Homo sapiens: one gene and its partner. The protein of the gene in region 1 purifies or fractionates together with the protein of each later gene. This does not show direct contact. Each region holds a gene or a part of one and is shown on either strand. Other genes may lie near its edges.

The links. The genes of interacting proteins can lie anywhere in the genome.
Region 2: the proteins of TMED8 (region 1) and FUNDC1 purify together in Homo sapiens (affinity purification with mass spectrometry; one large-scale study listed by BioGRID and IntAct). This does not show direct contact.

What each region holds. Positions count from the first base shown.
Region 1 is NC_000014.9:77,345,282-77,350,377, forward strand, and holds part of TMED8 (protein TMED8), read right to left. Parts: intron 1,200-5,096; exon of another isoform or gene 1,198-1,199; coding exon 1,068-1,197; intron 1-1,067.
Region 2 is NC_000023.11:44,535,669-44,540,764, forward strand, and holds part of FUNDC1 (FUN14 domain-containing protein 1), read right to left. Parts: intron 2,875-5,096; coding exon 2,799-2,874; intron 1-2,798. UniProt on the Homo sapiens protein: Integral mitochondrial outer-membrane protein that mediates the formation of mitochondria-associated endoplasmic reticulum membranes (MAMs).

The DNA of each region.
Region 1 (5,096 bases):
CAGCCAGTTTCCTCATTTCTTAAATGGAGACACAATGGCACCTATCTGACAAGGTTGTTCTCAGGAGTAAATGAAGTGTTACAGATACAAATGCTTGTAAACTGTAAAGTATTATACAAATCTAATTATAACGCCTGGTGGTGTCTTCATTGACACTAATACCAACCATTATTCTAACACATATGCTAATAAATGATAGAAACAACCCCATCCCGCCCCCATCCCTCCATGGCAGGGGCACCACTACACCATCACTTCCATACAGCTACTTGGAAGGCTGAGGCAGGAGGATCACTCGAGCCCAGGATTTTGAGGCTGCAGTGAGCCATGACTGCACCATCGCACTGAAGCCGGGTGACAGAGTGAGACCTTTGTCTCAAAAAAAAAAAAAAAAAAAAAAAATCAAGGCCAGGCACAGTGGCTCACATCTGTAATCATAGCACTTTGGGAGGTCAAGGCGGGTGGATCACCTGAGGTCAGGAGTTCGAGATTAGCCTGACCAATATGGTGAAGCCCTGCCTCTACTAAAAATACAAAAATTAGCCGGGTGTGGTGGCATGTGCCTGTAATCCCAGCTACTCGGGAGGCGAGGTGGGACAATCACTTGAACCCAGGAGGTGGAGGTTGCAGTGAGCCAAGATCGTGCCACTGCACTCCAGCCTGGGCGACAGAGGGAGACCCTGTCTCAAAAAAAAAAAAAAAAAAAAGCTTCTGTGGAATCTTTATCATAAATACTAAATAGATCTACCACAAGAAAAGTAAGAGCAAAATAGTCCAATGACTTCAGGCTCCTCAATGAAGAGGATTTTAGAGAACACATGAACATTCACTCTAACACTTCGTTTTCTGAATCGGTGCCTACTGGGTGCCAGTACAATGATGGGCCCTGTGGAAGATACAAATAATCATTCTCCAAAAAATAATGAAGACCAAGATGCCCTAAATTAGAGGGCAAAGAGAGAATTCCGGGAGCCACCCTCGCAGTGCTTTCTAATTCCAACCCAACCACTATGTGTCCACATTCTGGTGCCTCCTTTCATAAGAAAGAGCCAGAATCTGCCCCCTACCTCATTGAGGACCTGGGCCTGGTCTGCAGGCAGCAAATCCTGTTTCACCAAGGCCTGAGCCTCCAAAGGACCAGTTGCTTTCCGCAGATCTTCCGTGGCATCCTTACTCACTGGAGATACCATCTGTGGCCTCTCAGAGGAAGAGAGCATGTTAATTCAAGGACTCTTTGAAAAGACTCAATCATCCTGGAGAAACTTTGAAATAAAACAACATTCGAGATACCCCCTGCCCCACCTGCCCCTGGCATTTATTTAGCTCTACTGTCACCTTAGCCGACCACTGCCCAGGGCTGAATTGGTCCACAGTAAAGTGTTGACAGTGTGAAAACAAAGACTAACAAGGCCAGGTCAAAGGCTAGGAGAACCATGGAAAACACACAGCTCCATCATCTGAGATGGACTGCTGGTCTGGTTTTTTTTTTTTTTTTTTTTTTTTGTCATTGTTGTTTCTTTTATTTATTTATTTTAGTTGACAAAGTGTATATATTTATGGTGTACAATGTGCTGTTTTGATATATGTACACATTGTAAAATGATTAAATTGAGCTAATTAACATATCCATCCCCTCACATACTCCTTTTTGTGGTGAGAACATTTAAAATCTACTGTCTTAGCAATTTTCAAGTATACATTGTTATTAACTATTGTCACCATGTTGTACAAAGATCTCCAGAACTTGTTCCTCCTTCTAACACCTTATACCACTTGACCAACATCTCCCCATCCCACCCCCTGGCCCCAACACCTATTAACCACCATCCTGCCCTCGGCTTCTGTGAGTTCCAATGTTATTCCTCACTCTGCGGCCCACAGGGCCCACAGAATTTTAACCGAGGAATTGGTAGAATCTCAGTTCAGTTCTACACACAAAGCCACTGGCTAGAAGCAAAAGGAGGAGGTCTGCCTAAGGGAGACTGGGCACCAAAACAAAGTACAAAATGATGATCAAGGCAACCCTCTCTGCAGTTATCCCTGAGGCAGTCTTTCAGCAGATCCGTTTCATACCCTGTCCCCGTTCAGTGCTAGGGGTCATCACTTTCTCTCCTTTTTAAAGCACATTAATCAACAATCCCAATGGCTTCAAACACAGCTATGTGAATAGTTGTTTGTTTTTTGGCAGAGTGCACCAGTGATGCATCTCACCACAACCTCAAGCAATTCTCCTGCCTCAGCCTCCCGAGTAGCTGGGATCACAGGCATGTGCCACGACACCCGGCTAATTTTGTATTTTTAGTAGAGACAGTGTTTCTCCATGTTGTTGGTCAGGCTGGTCTTGAACTCCCGACCTCAGGTGATCTGCCTGCCTCGGCCTCCCAAAGTACTAGGATTACAGGCGTGAGCCACCGTGCTCAGCCATGAATAGTTGATTATAAAGATGCAAGGGAATGATTTATGCTCTCTTCCATTTCCCCTGGCCTCACAAAAACTAGAAAATTAGTGCCACGGTTGTAGCAAAATAACCCAGGCCTTTTGGGAATCTGTTGCTGATAAAAGGTGACATGGATTTTTTTGAATGGCAGTTATCCAAGTATGGTCTAGGGGCCCTTCGGGGGAGTCTATGAAGTTCAAACTGTTTCATAATAACACTAAAATGTTATTTCCCTTTTTTCATTCTCATTTTCTCAAGAGTGTGCAGTGGAATTTTCCAGAGACTATATGACATGTGATACCGCAATAGAATGAACTCAGAAGCAGAGCTGAGAATCCAACTGCCTTTTATTAAGCCAAACATTAAAGAGATTTATGTCTCTCTTTGTACTACATTCTTTGCTTTGAAAATTAGTTGTTTTTAAGTAAAAACATGTTTTATATATAGCATGTCATGAGTTATTATTTTTAAATGAACAAATAACCATATTCTAATTTTTCAGTTTTAATTTCTTTTTTTTTTTGAGACGGAGTCTCACTCTGTCGCCCAGGCTGGAGTGCAGTGGCGCGATCTCAGCTCACTCAAGCTCCGCCTCCCGGGTTCACTCCGTTCTCCTGCCTCACCCTCCCGAGTAGCTGGGACTACAGGCGCCGGCCACCACACCCAGCTAATTTTTTTGTATTTTTAGTAGAGACGTGGTTTCACCATGTTAGCCAGGATGGTCTCGATCTCCTGACCTCGTGATCCACCCACCTTGGCCTCCCAAAGTGCTGGGATTACAGGCATGAGCCACCGCGCCCGGCTGTTTTAATTTCTAATATAGTAAATATTGATAGATATAACCCACACAAACAAAAATTCTTTGGGTCCTTAATAATTTTTAAGAGTATAAAGGTCTGAGAATCCCTGCTTGAGGGCATCATTTCCTCAAAGAGGTTGAGTAAATGACTGGAAAATGGTAGTATACACCTCATGGGGGAAACGGAGGCTTCATTTTAGAGTTTATTAGTTTGTTTCTTTTCTTTTTTAACATAAACAAGAAGAATCACTCCTTCAGATAAAACAGAGCCATCTTTTGGAATATCCAAAATTACTCCAACCTACCTCAGGACAGACAAGAGGAGGTCACTCCAAGAATCAGAGCTGTGGGATTCTGTTGATCTTTATAGGTTCACTTGGGTAATTCAGTGTAAGCTGTAAACTGGCCTAGGCTGTGGGTCTATTTTAATGCTCTTCAACCCAGAAATTATAGTCCATTTCTGTTTCTTGACACTGTGTATCATCTGCCTCCTCTACTAGAAAGTAAGCTTGGTGGCAGGCACTGGGTCTCACTGCCTCTGTATGCACAGCACTGGGAACCAAGCCTGCCACCTGGAACTCTAAGGCCCTTTTTTTTTTTTTTTTTTTTTGGAGACAGAGTCTTGCTCTGTCGCCCAAGCTGGGGTGTAGTGGCATGATCTCGGATCTCGGCTCACTGCAACTCTGCCTCCCTGGTTCAAGCAATTCTCTTGCCTCAGCCTCCTGAGTAGCTGGGACTACAGGTGTGCACCACCATGCCTGGCTAATTTTTTGTATTTTTAATAGAGACGGGGTTTCACCATGTTGGCCAGGGTGGTCTCAAACTTCTGACCTCAGATGATCCACCCGCCTCTGCCTCCCAAAGTGCTGGGATTACAGGCGTGAGCCACCTCGCCCAGCCCTAAGGCCCTTTGCACTCTGACCTCACCTCTCAGAATCCTCACTCTGCCCTGGTCCCTCCAGCCACAACAGCCTCTTCAATCCTTGATAGTCCTCAAACACCCCAAGTACTCTCCCACTTGAGAGCTTTTGCATTTGCTGTAATCTCTGCCTAGAATACTCTTCTAGGACATTAACTCTTCTTTAGTTAACTGAAGACTTCCTTCCTGCAGGTTTTCTGCTGAGAGGTTTCTCAGAGGTCTGTATATAAAATGTGTGCCCCTTCCTGGCCTTGTCACTGTTTCTGCCCTTACCCAGCTTCATTTTTCTTCACTGCACCTATTACTGCCTGACATGATATGGAGCATATTTTGTTGATTGCAAGATGCACACTGGCTTTTAGATTTTAACACAACTGAAAGATAGGATGTCTTAAAAATTGATGATATCTTAAAAGTGCCGTGGGCCTGGATTGACATCAACTCTTTCCACGAGAGATTTGCATTTGCTTCTGCCAGTACTTAGGAATGCTACCAATCTGAGACTTCTTGAAATTAAGTTCTCTGTTTAGGGTTTTGTTTAATCCTCCTGGCAGAGTGAATTTAGACAAGACACTGGCTAATACCAACTGGTGGTTCCTATTCTCAGGGGAGATATTTTTTCCTCCTATGACACAGTGTCAAGTTTGAGACAATCAAGCTTCCTTGCTGTCCTTTTCTGTGTGGGGGATTTTTGTCTTTATATTTTCACTGAAGGTGCAGGTTTTTGGTATCCCAGTTGCATATGGGGGGTCTATTAGATGATCCATCTTAAGCATTTCTTCCTCTCTTGGTGGGACGTGAAAGCACAACTTACAGTTGACGGCAACTTAAGAGTCTGTGAAGTATGATGTGTAATTGTTTTCTGTCCACTTCCCCCACTAGAACATAAGCTCCCTGAGAGCAGTGATGGACTATTTTGTTCATTTGTGGTTTCTTTAGTA
Region 2 (5,096 bases), on another chromosome or scaffold:
CAAAAAAAAAAAAAAAAAAAAAAAGAAAGAATCCTGGCTGGGCGCGGTGGCTCACGCCTGTAATCCCAGCACTTTGGGAGGCCAAGGCGGGTGGATCGCCTGAGGTCAGGAGTTCGAGACCAGCCTGGCCAACATGGTGAAACCCCATCTCTACTAAAAATACAAAAATTAGCCAGGCATGGTGGCAGGTGCCTGTAATCCCAGCTACTTCGGAGGCTGAGGAAAGAGAATCGCTTGAACCCAGGAGGCGGAGGTTGCAGTGAGCCGAGATTGTGCCATTGCACTCCAACCTAGGCAACATGAGCAAAACTCTTGTCTAAAAAAAAAAAAAAAGAAGAAGAAAAGAAATAATCCCGGCCGCCCGTGGTGGCTCACGCCTGTAATCCTGTAATCCCAGCACTTTGGGAGGCCGAGGCGGGTGGATCAATAGGTCAAGAGTTCTAGACCAGCCTGGCCAAGATGGTGAAACCCCATCTCTACTAAAAATACAAAAATTAGCGGGGTGCTGTGGCAGGCAGCTGTAGTCTATAATCCCAGCTACTTGGGAGGCTGAGGCAGGAAAATCACTTGAATCCGGGAGGTGGAAGTTGCAGTGAGCCAAGATTGCGCCACTGCACTCTAGCCTGGGCGACAGAGCGAGACTCTGTCTCGAAAAAAAAAAAAAAAAAATCCCAAACTTCCTAGTAGAAATAATGGCCAAAACCTTCCCAAACATGATTAAAGACATAAATTCACAGGCTCAAGAAGTTCAGTGAACTCCAAGTAATCAATCTCAGTGAACTCCATATAATGAATGATCTAACACAATTATGAAAAAAGGGAAGTAACTACACTCAGACGATTGAGGGAGAGGGAAGAAAGCATTCAGGTATGTGAGATTTGGGGAAGTATAGGGAAAACAAAACAGGTCAATAAATGACAGCTAAATTTTCCCATTCCATAATGGGAAGCCAATAGTTCACACCTAAAACTGAAAGATCAAGAAATGTCCAATTAACTTGTTTAGGGAAAAAGAGATTACTACCTTAAGAATCAGTTAAGAGTGCAAACTGGATGTCTCAAGGGATGGAAAAATGGGGGTAGTGAGAGAGGTGGAGGATTACTCTAATCTGTAACAAGCCTTGCACAAGTACTTGGCCCTTTGAATTATAAGGATGTATAACTCCAAAAAATTAAAACGAAGAGACTGTGTACTTTAAGATGGCAGTGTAATAAATATCTATTGGAAAACACTTGATATTGTTACTAGAAAAGCTTTAAGTTCTAAATAAACTAATATTTACCTTTAAATATAAGAAAGGTCATAAAAATATGAAAGTGGGCCTAAAGAATATTAGGCAATTAGCCTAAAAGCCATTTGTTACTTTATTTCCCCTTTCACTTTCCTTCTACTGAGTTTTCAAGGTTAGTCGTATTTGTGGGAAAAACTGGTTTGATGCAGATAGGTCCTATGTTGCTCTGCCTTAAAAACTTCAAAGACTACGTGTACTAAATGCGGAAAAGTGGGAGGTGGCAATGACAAAATGTGGATTTGAATGGTGCATATTGAGTGAACTGAAATGGACTTCTGAAAAACTGACATGCAGAGTGGATTAAAATATACACTTCTCTCCATTCTGTGAACATTTTAGGAAACTCTGCTTCAGTCCAGTACCCTTTTACACTAACAGAAATGACAACTGAGTCTTCAAAATAGCTATGGAATAAAATATGCTCTTGATTCCATATAAAACCAAGTCAAAATCAGCTTAAGTAAAATTATCATCTGTACTAATGCTGGCATATTCATCCAAAGAACTAAATTTAGGTATTAATCATTTTTTTTACCTCTTACCACAAGTAATAAGCAATTATTCGTAATAATGTCACCAAAAGAAAGAAAACATATATATTTTTAAAAGGCTGTTTAGTGAACAACTCAAAATCTGTGCTTCATACATACAAATCTAGTCCCCTTGTACTACAACTACACTAGTTATTACATGATCGATGGCTTAGGTGCTGAATTCAGATTCTGGTGGCTATGAACATCAATCATTTTTAAAATCTAGTACAAGTGACAGTTCTCTGTATCTTTAAAAGTGCTGCTCACATTCATTCGTAGAGATTTTCAATTTTTGGATTTACTATATTTGATCTTCAAGGAATGATATTTTTGAAAAAATACATGCCAAACAGACATGAATGCCAGATGATGCCCTGATAAACATCCTCTAATGGCAAAGCATTTTTAGATCTTATACTTACAAGAATATGAACAAAACTAAAACTTCAAATCTATCTGCCTCAGATATAAGATTATGGATTTTTGTTTTGTTTTGTTTTGTTTGGAGACAGAGTTTTGCTCTTGTTGCCCAGGCGGGAGTGCAATGGCACGATCTCGGCTCACTGCAACCTCCGCTTCCTGGGTTCAAGCAATTCTCCTGTCTCAGCCTCCCAAGTAGCTGGGACTACTACAGGCGTGCACCACCATGGCAGCTAATTTTTGTATTTTCAGTAGAGACGGGATTTCACCATGTTGGCCAGGCTGGTCTTGAACATCTGACCTCAAGGGATCTGCCTGCCTCTGCCTCCCAAAGTGCTGGGATTACAGGCGTGAGCCAATGCGCTCGGTAATGGCTGTCTTTTTAATAGCTGGGATCAAACTATGCTTAATAACTCAGAAGTATTTAAATTGTTATCTTTCAAGACAAAAGTCAGCTTCCAAAACTCATTGTAGCTCTTCCATAAACTGATGCCTAAAAGAAAAATTCCACCTTCTATGAAAGCAAAGGCAAGTGCTTAAAGCTCTGACATACCTGAAGAAGAAGAAAGCCACCACCTACTGCAGTTGCTGCAAGTTTTCCAACTTTCTGGAACAGAAATCCTGCACACCTTTAATCAAATAACAAAAGATGAAAACAATCAATTATGTACTAAACCCTCTCCCTCTTCTACTTTTCATTGCTTTCCTAATAAAATCTTATGTCTTTGCATTTCTTTTGATCACATCCCTTACCTGCTCAGAAACCTTCTCAGAAACCCCTCAGTTATACAGGCTAGTCAAAAATGCACAATCTAAAATGTCTGAAATTTGCTTCAAAATAAGGGACGGAGAGAAGAGGAGGAGAATTTATAGAAAAAAAAGAGCAGCTACTAAAATAACGACAAGTACTCAGGGGTTCATTATATTCCTCCTACATTTGTATAAGCTGAAACCTCCCGTAATAAAAGTGATGTTTTGCTTAATACAGTCAAGATGGTCCATACACCTGGTTGACCCCCACCTTCGGCTCCAACCCCATTAACCTCCAAATAGGTCATCACCTTTGCTCAAGCTATTAATCTCCCTGCTTCTAGGGGTTTCTTCCTAGCTCTACCTATCTAAAGCTTTCCTACCATTCCTACCCTTTCAGGTCCAGCTGTTGTTCCACTCAATAACTATACTTCAGCCCACATTTCTAAAGGCCTCCTTATCTATATCTACCTATTTTTATATTAAATGTTTTTTGTGTCTCATCTACCCTGTGTCAGCTCATACTTCTTTTGTCATTAATTCGCTCCTTCAGTGAGCTCACATTCCCTTCAGCATTCCAGATCCACACTGTGCAAATGAATCCTATATTTCTAACTCTAGCCTTCTGCACTGGGTTGAATGGTGTCCCCCTCAAAATTCATATCCTTCCCAAAACCTCTAAATGTGACCTTATTTGAAAACAGAGTCACTGCAGATGTAATAAGTTCAGATGAGATCATACTGGACAGGGTGGGCCTTTAATCCGATAAGGACGCACACAGAGGGAAGACGACATGTGAGGACAACAGAGGCAGAGACTGGAGTAATACGTCTACAAGCCAAGGAATGACAAGGATTGCTGGCAACCACCAGAAGCTAGCAGAGAAACATAAAACAGATTTCTCCCTCTGAGCCTCCAAGAAGGAACAAACCCTGTTGACATCCTGATTTCAGACTTCTAGCCTCCAGAACTGTGAGAGAATAAATTTCTGTTATTTAATTTAATTAATTAATTTATTTTTTAGATGGAGCTCGCTCTGTCACCCAGGTTGGAATGCACTGGTGCCATCTCAGCCCACTGCAACCTCCGCCTCCCGGGTTCAAGCAATTCTCCTGCCTCAGCCTCCTGAATAGCTGGGATTACAGATGCCCGCCACCACACCCAGCTAATTGTTGTATTTTTAGTAGAGACGGGGTTTCACAATGTTGGCCAGGCTAGTCTTGAACTCCTGACCTCTGGTGATCCACCCGCCTCGGCCTCCCAAAGTGCTGGGATTACCAGTGTAAGCCACCGCACCTGGCCTCCACAGTTCTATATATTTTATCTCCAAAACATTATTTGACTGTCTTCTCCTTTCCACTCTCAAGGTCATCATTACCTTGCTTCCAGAACACTTTAAGGGCCCTCTAACTGGTCTCAACACCTCCCATCTCTCCTAGCAAGGACCCATCCTAATAGTTTTAATTTTTTGTCATGATCAAAAGCCTACAGCTACCTACAGCAAAATAAAATCTCCTCAGCCTCCTATACATGTCTTGAATTGGTCTAAATTGCTAACTTGTTAGGTTAGTGCCTATTAACTGTTCCTCCTTAATATACACCATAATATCACATCAGTTTTACATCCTAAGAAAATTGCAAAAATTTACTACACTGAATATAGTCATTGCAACAAATCGCCTGTATAATTATTAGAGTTGTATTATACAGCTCCTGGACCAACACCTGGCTGTAATCCAAATGTGTGTGTTGTGTGTGTGTGTGTGTGTGTGTGTGTGTATGTATATATACATATATGTCAGCAACAAAGGCTCAGAAAAGGGAACAGAAAAGGCAGGCAGCAGCCACAATGTCCCTTGGACTGTGTTCCACAAGCATGTGTATCCATTGCTTGATGGCATCAGTCACTAAAATGAACCTATCTCCTGCTGCTCTGTCTCTAGGCTTTCCGAGCAAACTTCTGCCAATGATGGGGCTTCATCTACAAGGAGTCTGGTCTCCAAGGAGAAACAATGAAATGACTTGATAATTCTATTCTCAATTATTTTTGAGTCTGTTTTAAGACTGGGCTTTAGGCCCTGACTGACATTAACCAATCAC